Regions from separate parts of the Homo sapiens genome. Here all the other regions are linked to region 2. The links come from fine-mapping of genetic effects on plasma protein levels. A gene starts in region 2. Each other region holds a variant in brackets. All regions are shown on one strand. Distances are between the middles of the regions.

Region 1 (7,412 bases), 260 kb after region 2:
CTATTCCCAAACTGTTAAATATTTTTATCATGAATGGGTGTTGGATCTTGTCAAACGCTTTTTCTGCATCTGTTGGGATGATCATCTAATTAGTTTTAAATTTTTTTTTTGGTTGTTGTTTTAGAGATGGGGTATCATAACTCACTGCAGCCTCTACCTTCTGGGCTCATGCAATCCTCCTGTCTTGGCCTCCCAAAGTGCTGAGATTACAGGCATGAACCACCACACCAGGACTAATTTTTGTTTTTATTTTGTTGATATGGTATCTTACATAAATTGATTCTCTGATGTTAGACCAACCTTGCATTTCTAGGATAAATCCCACTTGGTCATGGTATATAATCTTCTTTACAAATTGCTGGATTTGATTTGTTAGTATTTTACTGAGGATTTTTGTGTCTATATTCATAAGAGATATTGGTCTGTAGTTTTCTCGTGATGTCTTTGTTTGGTGTGGTATCAGGGTAATGCTGCCTTTACATAACATATTTGGGAGTATTCTCTCTTATTGTCTTTCTTTTTTTTTTTTTTTTTTTTTTTTTTGAGATGGAGTCTCGCTCTGTCGCCCAGGCTGGAGTGCAGTGGTGCGATCTCGGTTCACTGCAAGCTCCGCTTCCCAGGTTCACGCCATTCTTCTGCCTCAGCCTCCCGAGTAGCTGGGACAACAGGCACCCGCCACCATGCCCAGCTAATTTTTTTTGTATTTTTTAGTAGAGACGGGGTTTCACCGTGTTAGCCAGGATGATCTCCATCTCCTGACCTCGTGATCCGCCCACCTAGGCCTCCCAAAGTGCTGGGATTACAGGCGTGACCCACCGCACCTGGCCGCTTCTCTCCTATTTTCTAAAAAAGTTTGTGAAAGATTGGTTTTAATTATTCTTTAAATGGTTGGTAGAATTCATCAGTTTAAAGGCATCAGGACCTGGAACCTTTTTTTTTTCTTTTTTGAGACGGAGTCTGGCTCTGTTGCCCAGGCTGGAGCGCGGTGGTGCGATCTCGGTTCACTGCAAGCTCCGCCTCCTGGGTTCACGCCATTCTCCTGCCTCAGCCTCCCGAGTAGCTGAGAATACAGGCACCCGCCACCTCGTCCGGCTAATTTTTTGTATTTTTAGTAGAGACGGGGTTTCACCGTGTTAGCCAGGATGGTCTCGATCTCCTGACCTTGTGATCTGCCCGCCTCGGCCTCCCAAACTGCTGGGATTACAGGCGTGAGCCACGGCGCCCAGCCTGACAACCTGGACATTTTTTTAGGAGAAGTTTTAAAATTACGAATTTAGTCTCTTTACTTGTTATCGGTCTTGTCTTACGTGTTCCTGTGAAGAGACCCCCAAACAGGCTTTGTGTGAGCAACATGGCTGTTTATTTCACCTGGGTGCAGGCAGGCTGAGTCCGAAAAGAGAGTCAGCAAAGGGTGGTGGGATTATCATCAGTTCTTACAGGTTTTGGGATAGGCGGTGGAGTTAGGAGCAATGTTTTGGGGGCAGGGGGTGGATCTCACAAAGTACATTCTCAAGGGTGAGGAGAATTCCAAAGAACCTTCTTAAGCGTGGGGGAGATTACAAAGAACCTTCTTAAGGACAGGGGAGATTGCAAAGTATATTGATCAGTTAGGGTGGGGCAGAAACAAATCACAATGGTGGAATGTCATCGGTTAAGGCTATTTTCACTTCTTCTGTGGATCTTCAGTTGCTTCAGGCCATCTGGATATATACGTGCAGGTCACAGGGGATATGATGGCTTAGCTTGGGCTCAGAGGCCTGACAGGCCTATTCAGGTTTTCTACTTCTTCCTGAGTCCGTTTCTGTAGTATGTGTCTTTCTGGAAATTTGTCCATTTCATCTAAGTTGTCTATTTTGTTGATATACAGTTGTTTATAATATTACATTATAATCCCTTTTGTTTTTCTAAGATCAGTAGTGATGTCCTGCTTTCATTCCTGATTTTAGCTGCAATTGCATTTTAATGCAAAGGTAGTATGTGACTATGGAGCCTTGAGACATTTTTATTCAGGAAAACAAGTGTCTGGAAATTAGTAAGATTTTAAAGGGAGTAATATAAACTATAGAACCAGTAGTATTTTAATGAAAGGTAGTTCCAGCAGTGCTAGGCCCAGCTCCTAAGAACTGTCGAAGATCTGGAAAGTCAGGGAGAGTATCTCTGTGTATTGTGATTGTACCATTGGAGTCCTATGGTATTACCAGAAAAGGCATGTCTCAGCACATAGAGCAGCTGGGAGTTATCTGGTACCATATAAAAACATTTTTATGGGCAGAAATAATTTGAAAAGGAGGTTAAAGTTGTCATTAAATTAGCCACCCTTATTCATTTCTATGATAAGATCATAAAGGGCAGAGTTCACCTAACTCCTTATTGGTTTCTTGAATGGTTTTCGGAAAAGCAGTTTAGAAGAAAGGGAAAAATCATAGGATTTTTAAATTCACACAAACCATGTGGCACAAGCAAATTTGTTAGTTATTAAATGTTTAGCTAGGGGATTAATAAGCCATTAATGGGCTAGAATGTTTAGGAGAATGGTAACATAGGTCTAAGGATTGTTACTGACTTGGGGATATTCTAGTGCGTTCAGACTTTAGTTGAAGTTGAATGTATTTCCCATTTTTCTTATAATTGCACAAATTAACATTTTTTTAATATAAGAAAATTAGGTCCTAAATGCAACATGCCATGCTAAGCCCTATCATAATACTAAAAATCAAAGGTCATTCTTCCCACTGAGTTTAAGGGAAAAAAAAGTAAAAAACAAAACAAAACAATACAAAACCAAATGTGAGTCCCACGAAAGCAGGGACTTTGGTTATCTTATTTTGTAGTTGTGTCCCAAGCATAGTGCTGTAAACCATGAGGACCCCCAATGGTGAATAAGTGAATGATTAATAGTAGCTGCCTGTCACTAGGTTTCACTGTAAATAATAATAATGAAAACCCCCTTTTTGTTGAAGAGATATCACAGCTCAAAGGCAAAAAACCCTCTCCCTGCAACTTTCAAAGTGCAGCTATAAAATTCCCCTGAAGAAGCGGTCCCCTGAGTGATAAAGCGTCCCAACTCGAAGTTTCAAAACTCAGCCTGTCGGGCATATCAGAATCTTGAAACAATCACGTTTAAAAACACTGTTGTTGTAAGGATTTTATTTGATTTAAATGTTGTTTCTCTTGGAAAAGTCTTGTTTTTCTAAGCAAGTTAGATGGTTGAACTGGGCATACTGGGAAAAGAGAAAAAGATGTTTTAAAAAAGGAGAATATGGTTACTTTTTTGTAGGAGTCTCTATGGAGTTTCTGATACCTTACATTTAACTTCACCAATAAATGCTTTTTTATCCAAGAATAGATTGAAATGCAATTTTATGTCAAGAATTTTCCTAAGACTAGCTAATCATAACCTTTCTTATGGGGTTATGAGGAGTTAATGCTCTAACGTATGTAAAGTACCTGAATACACAAGACAGTCATTCACTGCAGCAAGTTTATTACTTTTGTAGACAACTTCTGTCCTTATTTAACATTTTGATATTTTCTTCACTGTGGATTTTCTAAAAGTAATTTTGATTCATTAAAGGATTGCATTAAAATGTTATTTATCTTGATTACTGAACGTTTTGGCTCCCCCTAAATTTTGTGCCTGAAGCAAGTCCCCCCTTTGCCTCACCTTAGCCCCAGCCCTGGTGGATAACTCAGTGATCTGGGGATGATTTAACAAGGTTGTGCAGTGTGTACCAGGCCTATTCCTCCTTATACTGAAAACTGTTGGCTTTGTGGAGAAGCAGTGTCATCACAGTTATTTGGTGATAATGAACACAGTTCCGCCTAGCCACTCTTGATTGAACTGGGTTGATCACCTGATCCAAAGACATCCAGTCCATGGACTGCCCAGTGATCATTTGTATGCCTGGGCTTACAATGGTGAGGCAGGCTAATCAGATTCCTTTCTGATTGAAAGGGTCTAATGACTTTAAATACGGAAATTGAATAGAAGTATTTACAAGTGAAATGAAACGATTTCTGGGATTTGCTTTAAAATAAAAAAAAAAA[A/G]AGAGAGAGGTAAACAGAAGTTTATTTTTATTTAAAAAAACCTTTTATTTTAGATTCAGGGGTACATGTGCAGGTTTGTTATATGGGTAAACTTGTGTCATGGGCATTTGTTTGTTGCACAGATTATTTAGTCACCCAGGTACTAAACCTAGTACTCAATAGTTATTTTTTCCTGCTCCTCTCCCTCCTCCCACCCTTCATTCTTAGGTAGGCCCCAGTGTGTGTTGTTCGAGTTGTCCATGTGTTCTCATCATTTAGCTCCCACTTATAAGTGAAAACACACAGTACTTGGTTTTCTTTTCCTGCATTAGTTTGCTAAGGATAATGGCCTCCAGCTCTGTCCGTGTTCCTGCAAACGATATGATCTTTTTCTTTTTTATGGCTGCATGATATTCCATGATGTATATATACCACATTTTCTTTATCCAGCCCACATTGGTGGGCATTTAGGTTGATTCCACATCTTGGCCATTGTGAATAGTGCTGCAACGAACATGCACACATGCATGTGTCTTTATGATAGAATGACTTATATTCCTTTGGGTATATATCCAGTAATGGGATTGCTGGGTTGAATGGCAGTTCTGTTTTTAGCTGTATGAGGAATACCACACTGCTTTCCACAATAGTTGGACTAATTTACACGCCTAACAGTGTATATAAGTCTTCCCTTTTCTCCACAACCTTGCCAGCATCTGTTATTTTTTGACTTTTTACTAATAGCCATTCTGATTGGTGTGAGATGGTATCTCATTGCGGTTTTGATTTGCATTTCTCTAATGGTCAGTGATATTGAGCTTTTCTTCATATGCTTTTTGGCCTTATGTATGTCTTCTTCTGTTCATGTCCTTTGCCAACTTTTTAGTGTTTTTTTTTTCTTGTAAATTTGCACAGGCTTTTTATAGATGCTGGATATTAGACCTTTGTCAGATGCATAGTTTGACAGAAGTTTAGAAGAAAAGTATTAGTAATTGGAAGTTGGGTGATGGGTATGTGGGGCTTTAGTATTCTACTGTAGTGTGTATGTGTTGTGTGTTAAATTCTATAATTGAAACATTTATTTTTAAATTGCAGCTTTTCTAAAACTAGACCAATGAACACTGAAGGCAAAAGCCAAATCTCTATATCAAGAGTTGCCATTAGGCTGGGGCCTGAGTGGCCCTCACAAGCCACAGGCATTCCAAAGTTAGAGGAATTTGAAAGAATGGGTAAGCAGAGAAAGCTGGTCAGTTAGGGAGGAGAATGGAGCGGTCATTGCCAGAGATAGGTAGATGCCTAGAGAGAGTGGTCTCTGCTAGTTGCAGATTTCCCCTGGTGCCCAGCCATACTATGGTACCTGTCCTTGAATTCTTATGCCATTTCTGATCCCCCTTTGCCTCATGTTTATCTTTAAAAATTGATTCCCTTTTTCTTTAGTTAATTTGAGTCAAGCCTCTGTTCCTCTACATCAAAATAGCCATCTTCAAAACAAAGGATTATTTGTATCTGTTACAGTTGGGATCTGCCCAGGTAGAGGGGTCCTACCAATCTTGGAATCAAATGATGATCAGTGTCTTGTGGAGGATAAGGAGAGAGAGACTTGTAAGGAGCCAGAATGTCAAGTGATCAAAGTCAATTCAATCTGCCCTCCAGGTACAAATGTACCAGGAGAGAGTTAAGAGCACTTTTCCTGAGAGATCTTGACAGTGAACAGGCAGAACTAATAGGCAGTTTGCCATGGTAGTTTCCTGGGACCACATTGATCTAAGAAGTACACATGGTCACTGAACTGTCAAGTTGAACTACACGCCCTGTGTGCTAGGCCAATCTTCTCGCCTGAGGGGTCTTACATTTTGAATGCTATGAATGCAAGGTAATCTCCCATTTGGATAAGGATGAAAGGCTTAGAGGATGTCCCCTTTGCCCTTCAATTGACCACAAAGAATAAAGGGTTTCTAGGCAGGATGAAAGAAGTAATCCAGGAAAGAAGCCAGGAAAATGATTCCAAAGGGGAGTATCAAGAAACTAGTTATTGGAGGGAATTAGCTCAGAGGCGAAATAGGCAGAACTTGGTGCCCATTGTAGGACAGTCTCTGTAGAAGAAGTCTGGATCATGTGAACGCATCAAGGGTGCCAGAGGGAGGGGTGCCAACTCTGCAGCCTTGGCGTGGGAGATCTTGCTAGAAATAGAAGTTGTAAATCTAATTCAGGGAAATCTGAATTGGGAAAGAAAATATACTTGCCCTGAAGAGCTGAGAGGAGGGGGAATGGTCCACTTTGCTCTTTTAGGAAAATGAGGTGGTGCCATGTACTTCCTGGGTCAAGGAAGGTCATGCACTCATAAAACAAAGAAAAGACAGACAAAAGTGAATACAGTGTTTGTAAGTTTAAAGAAGAAAATAATAATCACCATGCCCCAACGTGCAAAATCACCAGAAACAATTTAGTGAATTTTTTTTTTAGTTTTTTTCCTATGCGTTTACATAGTTGAGATAATATATGCTGATTTTTAAGTGCCATTTATATTCATAGGTCAAATAATTTAGGAAGAGGCACTTAATGATATGTATTGTCAGTCCCTAAGTGATTTATTATCTTTCATCATTAAAAAAAATTTCAGTGAGTTAGGTCATTTAACATGAGACTTAAAGATGCACAAAAGCCATTTCTCAAGTTCTTTAGCAATGAAAAAGTTCATTTATGTTATTCTACGCAATACTCCTTTTGTGGAGAGGGAGAGAAAAGAACAGTTGTTCAGTAATTTTCTTGGCACAGGATCTTCACTATGTAATAAGCTTAGCCATTGTTAGAAAAATCTGGACAAGAACAGCACCAGTTATTGTTATAAGTGACCATCAAATCAGGCAAGAGATTCCATATGAACTGTGGGTTAAAGGATATGGCTCAAGAAATGTTTCTTGGCACTGAAAGAGAGGTGGAAACAGTAGACTCTACTGCTTAGACTCTAGCGAGTGGAGGAATAGCTAAGTTAACACTGCAGCACTGTGTCACTTAGGATGCTTTTGGCTGTAAATGACAGAAAATTTGGACTCATTTGTATTAAATAATAAATACATCTAGTGTCACACTGCAGATCCAGGTTTGGTTAATTTAGCTAATCAACAATTTCAGCAATGACCCAGGTTCTTTTCATCTTCTGGCTTTGCCATCCTAGATATATTGGGGGGGTCCTCAAGCCAGCTCCCTTCATGGCTGTGAGATGATTGCAGCAGTTCCTGGACATGGCAGTGCAAGAGAAGATGAGCCTGTCTCCTGCTAGGTGTCTCTAGTTAAGAGTGAGAAAAATTTTCCCCCAAGTCTCCCCTACAGGCTTTCCTCATGTCTTATTGGCTGGGGTTATGTCACATGTGCATACCTAAACCAAT
Region 2 (7,412 bases):
AGTTCTCCATGAGAAATTAGTGAAAGGGAGCATCCATTCCCTTAGAAATCAGTTAATATTGCCATTAATAAGAGGTTGGGCAACTGGGCACGGCAGCTCACGCCTGTAATCCCAACACTGTGGGAGGCCAAGGTGGGTGGATCACTTGAGGTCAGGAGTTATGGCAAAACCCTGTCTCTACTGAAAATACAAATATCAACCAGGCATGGTGGTGGGTGCTGGTAATCCCAGCTACTTGAGAGGCTGAGGCATGAGAATCACTTGAACCTGGGAGGTGGGGGTGGGGGTTGCAGTGAGCTGAGATCGCGCTGCTGCACTCTAGTCTGGGCAACAAGAGGGAAACTCCGTCTCAAAAAAGAAAGAAAGAAAGAAAAGAGGTAGGGGAACCCTTTTTTATAGAGCTTTGCTCAGGAACCAAAAATTCAAGTTTATTTTAAACCTTTCGTCTATGCTTGAGGTATCTGGATTTCTGCTTTTAATATCATATTGTAAAGATTTAAAGAGAAAACATCTCTGTAGACATTGTTAATTTTGTAAATACTGATGTAATTTCTTGTGTTTTTCCATATCATCTACTGAAACTAAATAGCTCAGAATTAAAAAAAAGAGCCCTTTTATTTTGCCAGTCTATAAAGCTTCTGATGACAGGTAGAAGAACCTGGTGGTTAAGGACTTAGGTTTTGAGGTCGGTGGATGTGAGATTGAATCGTGGACAGGTTTTGAGGTCGGTGGATGTGAGATTGAATCGTGGACAAGATCTCAGTTTGTATAAAGGCATGTATATCGGCCTCATTTATACATATTCTTAGAGGGCTGTGAGAAGTAAATGTGTTTATATGTATAGAATTTAGTACCCATGGCCAGGCGCAGTGGCTCATGCCTGTAATCTCAGCAGTTTGGGAGGCCAAGGCGGGTGGATCACTTGAGGTCAGGAGTTCGAGAGCAGCCTGGCCAACATGGTATGAAACCCCGTCTCTACTAAAAATACAAAAATTAGCCAGGCATGGTGGTGCGTGCTTGTCAATCCCAGCTACTCAGGAGGCTGAGGCAGGAGAATTGCTTGAGCCCAGGAGGCAGAGGTTGCAGTGAGCTGAGATTGCGCCACTGCACTCCAGCCTCGGCAGCAGAGCGAGACTCTGTCTCAAAACAAAAACAAACAAACAAAAAAGAATTCAGTACCCACGCTGGCTCAGATGTTGATGGTTACTGTTGTGAATCTGGCTCTACGGGGACCAGTCACTTCATCACTCTTTAAAGACAAGACACTCCTAAATTATCTACCAGGCCATTTTATTTAGAAGGCCTTAACATGATTGATACATTTAATTTAATTTTATTTTTTTGAGACAGAGTGTTGCTCTTGTCCAGGCTAGAGTGCAATGGCACCATCTCAGCTCACTGCAACCTCTGCCTCCTGGGTTCAAACGATTCTCTTGCCTCAGCCTCCCAAGTAGCTGGGATTACAGGTGCCCGCCACCATGCCTGGCTAATTTTTGTATTTTAGTTGAGATGGGGTTTCACCATGTTGGTCAGGCTGGTCTAGAACTCCTGACCTCAAGTGATCCACCCACCTCGGCTTCCCAAATTGCTGAGATTATAGGCATGAGCCACCTCACCTGGCCGATGCATTTAAATGTGGGATTAAATATTCACACCTAGTTCAAGTGTTCACATCTGTACTTGAAACTAAAACTTGTTAACAAGGCATAAATACTGTATTAGTCTGTTTTCATGCTGCTGATAAAGACATACCCGAGACTGGGCAATTTACAAAGGAAAGGTTTATTGGACTTACAGTTCCACATGGCTGGGGAGACCTCACAATCATGGCAGAAGGTAAGGAGGAGCAAGTCACATATCACGTGGATGGCAGCAGGCAGAGAGAGCTGGTACACGGAGACTCCTGTTTTTAAAGCCATCAGATCTCGTGAGACTTATTCACTATCATGAGAACAGCACAGGAAAAACTCATCCCCAAGATTCAATTACCTCCCATTGGGTTCCTCCTAGGACACATGGGGATTGTGGGACTTACAATTCGAGATGAGATTTGGGTGGGGACACAGCCAAACCATATCAAATACTGTTTAATTTGAGTCTAGGAGAAATCTTAAGGCCTTAAACTTAGACTTTATAAAAGCAGAGGCTAGCTCCATCTGGACTGTTTATTCCTTCAGAATATTATGCCTACTTGTATTCCCAATGCCTGACTCAGGGCTCTCCCATAGTCAGTGCTCAATGAATATTGGTAAGGAAAAAAATGGTTCAGTGAGGAGATTTTTGCAGTAATTCAGGTGACTGATGACATTTGACCTTTGTGAATGAATCTCCAATTCTGCAATTGGGTGGATTCTCTGCCTATAGGTACAAGAGGAAGAGGACGAGAAATATTTCCTGTTCTCTCAATAACTTTCCAAATAACATGTCATAAGAAGCCTCCTCATTCTACTCTCCAACATATTAAAAGCCTAGGATTGAGCCAGGTGCAGCGGCTAACGCCTCTAATCCCAGCACTTTGGGAGGCCAAGGCAGGCGAATCTCTTGAGCTCAGGAGTTTGAGACCAGCCTGGGCAACTAAGTGAGACCCCCGCCCTGCCAACCCCCTCTACAAAAAATACAAAAAGTTAGCTGGGCGTGGTGGCATTTGTCAGTAATCCCAGCTACTCAGGAGGCTGAGGTGGGAGAATCGCTTGAGCCTGAGAAGCGGAGGTTGTAGCGAGCTGAGATTGAGATTGTGCCACTGCACTCCAGCCTGGGCGACAGGGCGAGACTCCATCTCAAAAAAAAAAAAAAAAAAAAAAAAAAAGGCATAGGTCCATAGCCCTTTAGAACTGGAAGAAGCCTTCTAGGCCAAGCCCTTCATTTGAACTGAGCCTTGACGGGTATTAGCCGTTAGCCATTTGTGGAAGGTCGCACAGTAGTCAGGACTGGAAGTCTGGTCTTTGAAACCTGTCAGTCCACGGTCATTTCACCTGCCTGTTTGTAAAACAATGTCCTGTTACTTAAGTATACTTTTTAATAAGAAAAACTGGGTGTAAGCAAGAGTATCAGAGTGGTGTTCTGGTGCCAGCAGTTCAACTTCTGCAGCGTGTACTTCACAGGCACAGGTACTTAGGACGTCGCACAGGCACAGGTACTTAGGACGTTGCCCCGCCGAGACTGTCGTTCATATCGCGCCCACCTCCGGGTAACGCCGGTAATGCTGACCTAGCTCCATTATTTGTATTAATTTATTTAGCTAGCAGGGGGAACGGCTGGGTAATGCAGTCTCAGCTGCTGGAGGGGAAGAGGCAAGACTCCGCCGGCGCCCACCATCAGAGCGTGACAACAAGCGGGACCGGAGGTTGGGAAAAAGCACAGGGACAGAATGAATGTGTGCATGGGGGAGCTCTGCTGGGGAGAGGGCAAGAGGCTGTGATCAGATTATCTGAGGTTTCAGAACTTTTATATAAAGACCAAGGAACCAAATGAAAATCCAACTCTTCCAGGGAGCCCTGGAAAGTTCAAAGGACCTCGTTTGAGGGAGCGAGTCCCCGCAGCTCGTGCCCACGTCTCCCTCGCGCTTCCCCCAGGACAGGGGCCGCCCCAACCCGGGCACGCTGAGCCCGGCCGCGCCCCTAGCCCCTTCTCTCTCGGCCTCCTCGTCCCGAAGGGAAGCACAGGCTCGAGCAGCATTCGGGGCTCATCCATCAGCCGCGGAGGCAAAGGGGGAGGAGAGAGGAGGCGGGAGGCGGGAGGCGGGAGGAGGAGTTTCTGGGCGGCCGAGAGCCCCCGGTGGGGCCGGCGGAGGAGCGCCCTTCCCCCCGCGCGCTGATTGCTGTGGCGTCCTGCCCGTCCCCGCCCGCGTGTGTGCGAGGGAGGGCGAGTGCGCCGGGTCGGCCTGATGGGGGTAATCGAGGGTTTCGGGGACGCCGAGCGGCACTTTCCTCTTCCCAGCGAGTGAAGGAGGGCAGTCGGCGGCTCTCGCGCCCCGGCCACTTTCCCTGCGCGATTCCCGGAGCTCCCTGCAGGAGGTGAGAGTCCCCAGCGGGTCCGGATGGCGTAGTTTTGCCGCGGCGCAGCAGCTGCCGGAGCTCGCCGCCGCCGAGCGCTGGGCGGGGAAACTTGCCGCCGCTTTCCTCCAACTTGCTGCGGGTGGATCTCCGCTGGACACACCGCCTCCGAGGTACGTGCCGGCCCAGCCCCGCGGCGCTGCAGCCCGCCCGGGCTGTGGGCTCTGCAGGCTGCGCGGGTGCCCGTCGGCGCGGCGCGGGCTGCCAGTGCCTACTTACCGGCCAGGGTCGCTCCAGCCGCCAGGACCTCCGGCCTTGGGAGGGAGGCGCTGGTGGGGCGGTGTTTACCCTCCGGGGAGCAGGCACCGGTGGCCAGCGGTGCGTGGGCAGCGGCCGCACGGGGCAGGCAGTGCCCCCGGCGATGCGCAGTGCTGGGGAGGAATTCTCCACGCCCGCCCTCACTCTTCCTCTCCGCGGGTCCTTCTGACCCCTGCGGGGCGCGGCGGCCACTTCCCTCCGGGCGCGTGACAGCTTCGGTGGGAATGGTTTGTTGTGGGTTCGCAGTCAATTGCCGTGGCCCAGGCTGTGGCTCCCGGACTCGTGCACGGACGCGGTTTGCGTTCCCCGCTGGCCGCGCCCTCAGGGTGCCTTGCGGGCTGAGCCGCAAGCTGCAGCTCGGCCCCCCCCCGCCCCGGTTTATTTTGAAGGCTCTCTTCTTGTATTCATTTGGTTAGGACAAACTTGGAAATCTTGGACTGTCGCTAGAAGAATCTGCTTGCAGACTTGATCTTATTAGGGCATTTGCCCCGCTTTGCAGAATCGCATAGTGTCAGGAGCCGACGTGTCAAGCATGAATTACCTTGGCAAAGTAGAACTTAGTGGATTTGGTGTCCTCACGAAAAGCTGGAAGAAGAAAACCGTTCCATTTCCCTAGCTGTGAAGTGAGGATAGTAGTACTTGCCCCGTAAAGTTGCTGTGAGCATCTAATGATTTAATGTGTGTGAGGTGCTACAACAGTGCTTGGCACCGAGTAAGCACCGCACGGAGGTTAGCGCTGCTTGCCGCTAGCCCTGCGGTGGCAGGATAGGAGCGGCGAGGGCAGAGGATAGTAGGAGTGACAGGCTGTGCTGGGGAACCAGGCGTATTCTGAGTTTTATGTCCTTCCGAAGAAGTGAGCGGTTTGGGAGAAGTCTCCACAGGTAGTAAAAACACACGTCAAGACCGTTTCTTCTTCCTGAATGCAGAGTGCAAACAGTTACTTCAGTGTGAACTCAGTTGTTTCTTTTGGATAATAATAACAGCTAACGTTTTCTAAGCCCATACTGTGTGCACTTAATCCTCACAGCATCTCTATGGGAAAAGCACTATTAATAACCCTATTTTACAGATAAGACACTAGAGGTTAAGTTACTTGTCCAAGATCATACATAACTTTCTGTTAGTTCTGACTCCAAAGCTACCTTCCTTCCTCAGCGGAGAGCGGCAAGTGCAGGCCGATTTGTGTGTACATAGATTTGTGTGCATAGTCCATGCATCTTCTCCCATCTTTCAGCTTTCTATTTGAGCTGAACGCATATCTCTTGAAACACACATAAGGTATCTGTGATGAATTTAGGCGATTTTACATACTTATGAGGGTGCCCAATTAAAGTTCCTCTGAAACTGGCCCCAAATAATTATAAATAGAACTCTGACTTGTATTAATTAACATGGAAATTTTTTTTTTTTTTTGGTGACAGAGTCTCGCTCTGTCCCCAGGCTGCAGTGCAGTGGTGCGATCTCGGCTCACTGCAACCTCCACCTCCCGGGTTCAAGAGTTTCTCCTGACTCAGCCTCCAGAGTAGCTGGGACTACAGGCGCGCGCTACCACGCCCAGCTAACTTTTGTATTTTTAGTAGAGACGGCGTTTCACCATGTTGGCCAGGATGGTCTCGATTTCTTGACCTCGTGATCCACCTGCCTCGGCCTCCCAAAGTGCTGGGATTACAGGTGTGAGCCACCACGCCTGGCCAACATGGATCTTTATTCTTAATTTCTTTTATTAATTCTCCAGACATTGTTGATCACCATTACTTGGCTTCCTTAGGAAACAGCTTGGGGTTGGCACAGGAGGCAGGGAAATAATTCTTACCCCCTTAAGGGCTATTAACATGAAATTGATTTCATGCCATTGTGTCAGTTAAAGGATGTTGCTCTATTTCTTGCTGTTCTTTGCTTTTGGCTTTATTTCTGCATTGTTTAGTGTTTCAAGGCTTGAGCGTTTTTTTTTTTTGGCCCTTCAGTTTGACATTTGTCAACTTTAATTTTTCCTGTTTTGATGGAATCTGACCGTTACACGGCAGCTTTGCCTAACAACTGTTGATTCAGCTCATGTTTTTAAATATAAAAATCACCAACATAGTTTTGAATCCCAGCACTTCAAAGGCAACCCGTGGGGAGTTCATTGTTATTTTGAATATTAGTCAATAGGGGGAGCATAACACACTGTTGATATCTATAAGGCGCATAAACCCGTTTTTAGAGTATTAAACATATAGTTTGAAAGGGGAGGGCAAAATATCTAGCAAAATAACTAAGTTGCTTTTGGAGTTTATAATGGAGGACTAGATTTAATTTGAACTGATTAAGAATGACCTTGAGGACAGGGCCTGTATGTTGAATATATGTCAAGAACTCCATGGTGGCTGGACAGATAGATAAACACACATATAGTTTTTTTTCAATTTGTTTCCTTAAGTGGTGTGTAGGCCAGGCACAGTGGCTCACACCTGTAATTCCAACACTTTGGGAGGCTGAGGTAGGAGGATCACTTGGCCAAGGAGTTCGAGACCAGCCTGGGTAACATAGTGAGACCCCCATCTCTTTAAAAAGTGAAGTTTGTATGTAAACTAATTTTGTGTGGTTTGAATAATATTTCAACTTACCTGGGAGAAATGGAAATCCAGAGGAATTTGTTGTGAATCCTTTTGTAATGATCCTCATTTGTGTTTTGTAGAAAACTGAATATAATGAATTTGTTCTCAGGGAGGTTGGTGTGTTCACAATCCTGTCATCATCTTTCATTAACATCTTCTAAGTGCAAGACAATAGGGGATCAGTAATCCTAAATAACAGCAGTTCTATTACTGTGAATTCCTCAGAGGCTTACGTTAATATTCAAGTATAGTAGTAGTTCAGATGTATCATATTTGATACTAGTATAAGTGTGATGTGTCTATGAATACTCATACTTGTAAACATAAACAATAAGAATATGCTTGAAAAAATCACACTTGACATTTATCTATTTATTTATTTATTTTTTGAGATGGAGTCTCTCGCTCTGTCGCCCGGGCGGGAGTGCAGTGGTGCAATCTCAGCTCACTGCAAGCTCCACCTCCCAGGTTCACGCCATTCTCCTGCCTCAGCCTCCCCAGCAGC
Region 3 (7,412 bases), 150 kb after region 2:
GTCAAGTTGACACATAAAATGAACCATCACAGTATGCTTCTCAGACCATACCTGGAGACCTTGAATCTTGTCCCGACACCGTCTTTCAGAGACTATCCTGTTGACGCTCTGACAACCAGGGTATCTGGGGCAGAACTGAAGAAGCTAGGGGTGTTGCCCTGAAAAAGCAAACATGTGATTGAGGTCAGATGACACCTTTAAACACCTGAAGTCTTGTCTCATGGAAGAAAGACGAAGGAATTCTTTGTTCTAGTAGGCATGGCTCAGACTAGTGTATAAAAAATGAATCTAACAGAACAGAAATCTGCTGTCTTGGGAGCTAGTGAGGTCTTCTTTCTGGAAGGGTGCAAGCAGAGGCCAGCTGTGACCAGGAGTCAGAAGTCTTAAGTTCTGGTCTGGGCCTGGTGCATGACTCTCTGGCCTTGGGTAGGCCATTAGACTCTCTGAGGTTTCCGCTTTTCTGCTGTAGAGGTCACCGTAGCCTGCCTCACAGTTCCGCAAATCAGATGGAAATAACATCTGAACAATACCTTCTAAAACAACACCTTCTAAAACTCAGCTGTAGCCTTGTCAGGGTCAGGAGAGCTGGCAGTCAGGAGGGGAGTGCTAGCTCACTCCTTGCTGAAGCTGAAAATTTCCACTGACCTGCAGTCAGGGACACCTCACTGCAGCTTTGCTTTCTTCTTATTGGAATGTGCCTGAGGAGTGGCAGTTAACTCCAGTTCCAAATTCCTCAGCCCTGAGTGTATGAAGCTTATTGCTGCTGGCCCGTGAGGACAACAATGCCTGGAGGGAGCAGAGGGAGTTGTTCCTCCTCCACGAATCAGCCCCATCACCAGCTTCATCACGGCATCGCTCTTTAATTACTTCAGGACACAATTCGGAGTTGCCGTTGATATCTTCTGTATTTGTGCTGTTTGCTTTCTTGCCTCTGGAATGCACCAGTGTGACATCCCGCTTTCCGCTCTGAAAAACGTACTCTGTGTATAATGTATATAGGGTTGCTGTAGTTTATGGCCACAACATGAATGAGAAACAAGAAGCAGAACATCCAGGGTTTCTCGTCTAAACATTCAGAACTGTGCTGGCAGTGGGACAAAGGCCTCTGGACTGTTGTGGGTTTTGGTGACAGCCTTGATAAAAATGCCTTTTTAGTACAAGTGAAAGGAAGATTTTACTACAGTGCAAAAGTCAAAAAATTAGATAAACATTGTTGGAAGTTCAGTGTTGATGAGTAGCTAAGCCTCAGAGAAGTTACACTTAGGTGGGCATGGTTATTTTTTGGCAGGAAAATGACCTAGGATTTTTTTCTTATTCAGGCGACGTCAAAACAAGGTTAGAGCTACATGTTCCCCTCTGGTTTTGTTTATAACTGGCATCAGGACATTCAGAAATGATCGTGACTACACTTGACAGCACTGATACGTAGTAAGTGTGCAGTCAGTGGTAGCTGTTGTGAGTAGCTTTGGTTTACACCGAGTTTATTAGTGATTAATTCAGGGCTTCCACAGAGCCCTGTGTAGTTCTACACAGCTACCACTGACTGCACACTTACTACGTATCAGTGCTGTCAAGTGTAGTCACGATCATTTCTGAATGTCCTGATGCCAGTTATAAACAAAACCAGAGTGGAACATGTAGCTCTGTACCATCTGTGTGGCCCGGGCATCAGGATATCTAGAAACTTTTCAGGTGATTCTAGTTTTCAGCTTGCAACATTAGTAGGTCATGGAATCAATTAATTGAAGTACTTTTTTTTGCCAGCGTTTTTAGAAGATACGTTTATATAATTGTATAGAAAATATTAATGCCTAGCACAGTAGCTGGGAAAATATAATTTTGTGTGTGTTAAAAATGCTGCTGTGATAGAACCACTAATAAAATCCCTGCCCTCGACTTGCTTCTTAGTCTTACTTCAGAAACTGCATGCTTTTCGTTATGAATAAATGGTTCATGTGAAATTTAATACAAGACATTTATAGTTCTATGACCTGAGAATTTGTGAGCCTTCTTGCCCACATTTTGAGGTTTCACTCTGACATTGAAAAAATCAGTTATTTTATAAATGCTAGCCAACAAAAATGGCATACATATTTTCACCAGCAACTAAATTTGATTATAGCACAGCAACAAGATGATGATTTTCCTCCTTTGGATGTGTTAATTACACATATACCATGATATGCTAGGTCAGCAGTGGTCTAAATACATTCAGCAAGAATGAGGTACTTGCATACGTCATCCTGAAAGTTTTATTAGATCAGTTTAACAGCCTCTTGACTTCATTATCTATGGGAATTTGGGGGTCTTACACAATAAACTGTTACAAACATTCATCTCACTCTTATGAAATAGAGCAATGTGATAGAAAGGCTGGCAACCTTTGGCCATTTTTATCTCAGTGCTGAGGTGAACATAAACCAAGAGGACTCTCGCTGTTTCCCTATTGTGATGACTCTGTTGGCAGATGCTGCAACTGTGGAAGACCTGAAAGTCGTGATCAGTTGCTAGCAGGACTTTGGGATCACTTGTCTTGATCCTGAAGCTTTTTATAAGCCCACGAGAACATTCATCAAGGCTTCCCACTTGACTTGAAATACATTCATTGTAAGATTGGTCTTCGATTTAGATTTCTTGGAAATAGCAGTGATAATTCTTACGATTACTCAATGTGCAATGCAGTCCGTCCTCACAAGGTTCTTTCAGAGTTCAGAGGGACATCCTGCATTGGTAGTTTTGCCTTTGTCTGGGAGGACTAGGCTTGGGATTATTCCTTGAATCCGCTGCTTAAAAACGCTGATCTGCTTGTATAACAAAGGGAAGAGGTTCGATTTACAAGCACTTCGATTTGAGAAGTACTTTCTCTAATTATGATTCAGCTCCGGTGACTGCACCATGTTAAATACGCAATTCTCTTTCCTCTAGGTGTCTGAGGGTTCTGTGGTCCAGTTTTCATCAGCAAACTTCTCCTTGACAGCAGAAACAGAAGAAAGGAACTTCCCCC[A/G]TGGAAATGAACATCTGTTAAATTGGGCCCGAAAAGAGTATGGAGCAGTTACTTCATTCACCGAACTCAAGATAGCAAGAAACATTTATATTAAAGTGGGGGAAGGTAAATTTTATGTGGCTTCAGTTAATGACTGATTTATGACAGGCAATTGTTTTCTTTTCTGAAACCAGGTGGTTAGGGCAAGGAATCACAGAATTACAGAATGTTGGACCTGGAAGGGACCTGAGGGGTCATTTGGCCCCAGGCCTCTCCACCGCCCCCCATATTCCCTCCCTTCTTTTTTCCTCCTGGGGAAGCAGGCCTGGTTATGGCCAAGTGAAACACAGGGAGGAGCAGGGGGAGAGAGGAGAAGGTTGTTGTGTGGGATTTAGAAGACACCCATGCACAGAAGTCAAAAAAAGTAAGTGGAGGTGAGAAGCTGAGGGTGTGGGAAGGAGGTGATGACTGATGGAGTGGAAGAGCTGGCAGAATGAATGGGTCAGCAGGTGGCTTCCTCTTACCTGTGTTCTGCAAACGTTTGAAGCCTGTGTCAGTTTGTGGTGCTGAGACATAGGTTACATTTTGGACAATAGCAAAGGAAAAGTATTTAAATATATTTTTAGTACAAATGACTATTACAAGGACAAATTATTGGAGAAAAGAAGTGTAGGGTCTTGATAAGAGATTGCCTATTTAAATTTCCTTGCATTGCAAAGGGATAGAAATATCCAGAAACCCAGTTTTGAAAGCCTTTTTTAAAACAAAAACAAAAACAAAAAACCTTCTCTTTCTTTCTCATTCTTTCATTCTTTCATTCTTTTCCTCCCTCCCTCCCTCCCTCCCTCTCTCCCTCCCTTCCTTCCTTCAACAGGGTCTTGCTCTGTTGCCCAGGCTGGAGTGCAGTGGTGCGATCAGTGCTCACTGCAGCCTCAACCTGCAGGGCTCAAGTGATTCTCCTGCTTCAGTCTCCCAAGAAGCTGGGACTACAGGCATATGCCATCATACCTGGCTAATTTTTACAATTTTTTGTAGACACAGGTCTTGCTGTGTTGCCCAGGCTGGTTTTGAACTGCTGGTTAAGAGATCCTCCTCCCTTGTTCTCTCAAAGTGCTGGGATTACAGGCATGAGCCACCGCACCTGGCCAGACCTTTTTTTAAAAATCATTATTTTCAGTTGAGTATATTTGGAACCCCCATAAGTTACTAGGAAATAACTCTTGTGAATGGGTCCTTGTTATAGCTGGCTGATTGTGTGAACACTGCGTTTAAGGTCTTCAGCATCCAGCTGCTTTCTGTTAAATTCTACAGCAGCTGTCACCTCCTCATAGACAAGACAGGGAAGGGTGGGTTAGTGAACACTTGATCCCAACTCTTATTTGGATCTGGGCTGCTTTAAAGTGTGTGAGAGACAGAGGCAGGAAAGGTGGACGTGGACGTCGGAGAGGATGCTACGTGCAGAAGCCATTTCAGGGGCCTTCACGTGCATCCCACTTAACCCCACAGTAACCCCAGGAGGAAGATGTCATTTCCACCGTTTTACAGAGGGCTTAGTGGAGGGCTAAGTGAACCTGCTCACATCCAAGTTACTAACAAGTGACAAAGCCAGAACACAAACCCAGGCTTCCTGACTCTTGAGTTTAACGCTTGTTGCCTGAGCTGTACTTTAAGTCCTAGCCAAATAAGCATAACTCAAAAAGGGAAGTGGTCCACCTGGATGAACATCCTTGTTTAGTTGAGGCAGAGAGAAGGGGACTTAGAGGAGGGCTGGGCTCAAAAAGTCTAAGTTTGTTTCTGTACTCTCATGATAGGTAGCTAATAACAGAGGTCAAATCCCATTGAGACAAAATGAAAAATTTCTTTTAATAAAGACTCTAAGCCCTGGCCAGCGGGCCGCGTTTCTGAAGCAGAATTCTAGTAGCATGAAAGAATGTTGATTACCCCTTGGAATTTGTTAGAATAAGAAAATTTGTTATAATAACATTTAGAATGTTGGACTGTGTTCTCTCGGCAGTGCATGAGCTTCTTTCTAAGCACAGTAGTCACTTACCCTGAGAGCCACGGGTTGTCACTTAACTGGTTCAGCCTGTGCACACTGGGTAGGGGAAGCCAACTTAAAGGACCTTGTGTCTGGTGCAGTAAAAACTGTTAACTCCTTGGTAACACCTTCGGAACCCCTGAAACTTGACTCCAGCCACCAGTTGAGTATGAGTCACCGGGCCATGCCGTGGAGAGAGGAGCAGTAGGGAAAGGAGGTTCCTTGGTGAGGTCAGTGGACCATAAAGTGATATGTTTATCACCACGGCTCAGACTGCACTGAGCAAGCTTCATCCCCCACTTCCCAGAATCCGACCTGGCTCTACCTTTCTTGTACCCAGCGATCGCAGGCCATGAGGCCTGGTTGCTCTAACCCGAGCAGTTCTCAGAGTGTGGTTTTTGCCCCAGCAGCATCCGCATCACTTGGGGACTTGATGGAAATGCCAGTTCTCAGGCCCAACCCAGACCAACTGAATCAGGAACTCTGGGGGTGGGACCCAGCAGTCAGTGTTTCAATCAGCCCTTTAGGAGATCTGATGCTTGCTGACGTTTGGGAACTGCTCTCATCTATATACCCAGAATGAAAGAATTTAAGAGTTTTGCTCTTATCCCAGCTGGTCTTGCTGCGAGGCTTCAAGCAACATTGACTTACCACCAGAGCCTCAGTTTCCACAGCAGGAAAATGAGGTGTTTGCATTACCCCCCAGGTTCATTCCTGCTCTCAGAGTATATCCTTCTGTGTCTCAAAGTCATTTGTCAATCTTTCCCTAAAATACAAATAAGCATGTGACTCCCCCTGCCCCCAAACTTGCCAGGTTTCTACCCGGGAATTCCCCTTTGTGGTTTCCTTTCTACTTGGCACTCGGTATAAGTTTTGATGCCAGGCATTCGGAAAGTCATTGGGGAGCGGGGGAGAAACCACACACAACAAAAGTGGTCAGCTTATTCAACTTAGTGACAATGGCTTCTGGGACTAGAGCCCTTAATAACATCAACTTTTGAACAATTAGACCTTTCCTAGTGGCTTCACATGAGTGAATATTTTGTTATTTGTCTCAAATCTCACATCATTGTTTGTTAATTCAGGAAACCTATACCATATGCCCACTATGTGCCAGATACAAGCCAGGCACACCTATGAACTGGATATGCCGGCCACAATCCCAGGAGGGCCCTAGTCTCTTGAGTTCCAGACTGTCCTGTCCCTGGCCCATAGACGCTCTTTCTTAATTAAATTTCAACCTTGCCGTTCCAATATCATTTTCCATCCTGTGATGTGGGGGAGGCATCCGCAGGGCTGCAGCTGCACGGTGTGCATACCTCATTTGCTCATCTGGCAAAACCCTCAGCAGATGTGGAGGGAGGCTGCTCTAGCAGCCTGAGTCAGTGGAGCCTTGAGCTTTTCTCTCTGAGGGGGAGGGGAATTAGAGGAGACTGCAGAGTGCAAACCCAATGCTCTCTCGCAACGAGCCGACAAACAGAGGCTTTGGTCCCCTTTGTTCTGGGGTGGTGCTGGGGGTGCTGTGGTGGCCAGAGCCATGATGCCCCAGTGTGTGCTGCGGACCTCAGCACAAGGGAGGTTGCACAAGTGGGGAGGGGGAGGGACAGTATCAACCCAGTCTTGGGACCCCCTGGTTGGATTCCTTACTCCAAAGTGAGACTTCCATGTGGACTTGAACCCTGGCATCCTGTCCTCAAAATGGAAAAGGCAGAAGTCTGTTTTATAGTAGTGCCAGGCCTCTGATTAATTATCCCTTCTGAAAAAAGCATGCTACACCTAGAACTTCCTTGACACTGGTCCCAGCTGTCACACTGCCAGCAGTTTCTTTCAAGTTCTGTTGAAATATTTAAGCCCGTGGATGGAAATCCCATCAGCCGCCGTGCTGTGTAAATGGCATGTGCCGTTGTGGGAGTGTCTTCAGATTCTGGTACTTGCATCACTTTCCCGGGTGGAGGTGGTGAGCAACTCTCAGCACAGTGAGATAATGTTTGCGAAAGCACTTTGTAAACTGTAAAGTGCCATATAAACTTGAGTTGTCTGTGTTCAGATTGTGAGAAAGAGTGAAAGTCTGCCTTCTTTATTTCCCCCAAATTCCTACCTTTCATCTTCAGAGTATAAAGTGCTGTGAGGAATACATATGAGGGAAAGATTAATTCTACATGGGGTGTCGGAGGATTAATTAGGTGGTTGCTTCTCCTGATAGTTGAAATAACAAATATCCAAGGAGGAGTGCATTTGGGGATAGAATGGATTGAATGTTAAATACGCTGACCATGAAATACATAAGTATTGGATTTTTAGATAGGAGATGCTTGGTAGACAGATGACAGTATAAGTCAACTGCTCAGAAAAGGAGTCATGATCTAGGTACAGGTTGAAACCATGGGAGTG

Which allele goes with the higher level. Alleles are on the strand shown, and positions count from the first base shown. The strength of an association depends on the size of the effect and on how common the allele is. Not every link is listed here.
As copies of G replace A in region 1, the plasma level of the protein whose gene starts at base 3,892 in region 2 goes up (weak association).

What was found. PIP is the chance, under the fine-mapping model, that this variant and not a neighbour inherited with it causes the effect. Protein levels are from antibody-based Olink assays in UK Biobank. Linkage for the fine-mapping came from a reference panel and not from the study's own genotypes, which makes the PIPs less certain.
Region 1: its variant is fine-mapped to the plasma level of the TGFBR3 protein (UK Biobank, PIP 0.99).
Region 3: its variant is fine-mapped to the plasma level of the TGFBR3 protein (UK Biobank, PIP above 0.99). The variant lies in the coding sequence of TGFBR3. If it changes the protein, the assay may bind it differently, which can mimic a change of level.

The regions. Positions count from the first base shown.
Region 1 is chr1:91,621,549-91,628,960 of GRCh38, reverse strand. No RefSeq gene overlaps it. Among named protein-coding and RNA genes, the nearest start is that of CDC7, 120 kb to the right of the region's middle. The variant A/G (reference allele first, on the strand shown) is at 4,048.
Region 2 is chr1:91,882,631-91,890,042 of GRCh38, reverse strand. It overlaps TGFBR3 (transforming growth factor beta receptor 3), which reads left to right and starts at 3,892. Exons shown (of 17, transcript NM_003243.5): 1 at 3,892-4,165. RefSeq lists silencers at 3,626-3,765, 4,116-4,195, 4,206-4,415 and enhancers at 3,558-4,320, 4,321-5,084.
Region 3 is chr1:91,730,473-91,737,884 of GRCh38, reverse strand. It overlaps TGFBR3 (transforming growth factor beta receptor 3), which reads left to right. Exons shown (of 17, transcript NM_003243.5): 5 at 2,926-3,109. Among named protein-coding and RNA genes, the nearest start is that of TGFBR3, 150 kb to the left of the region's middle. RefSeq lists enhancers at 1-1,130, 5,059-5,353. The variant A/G (reference allele first, on the strand shown) is at 3,005.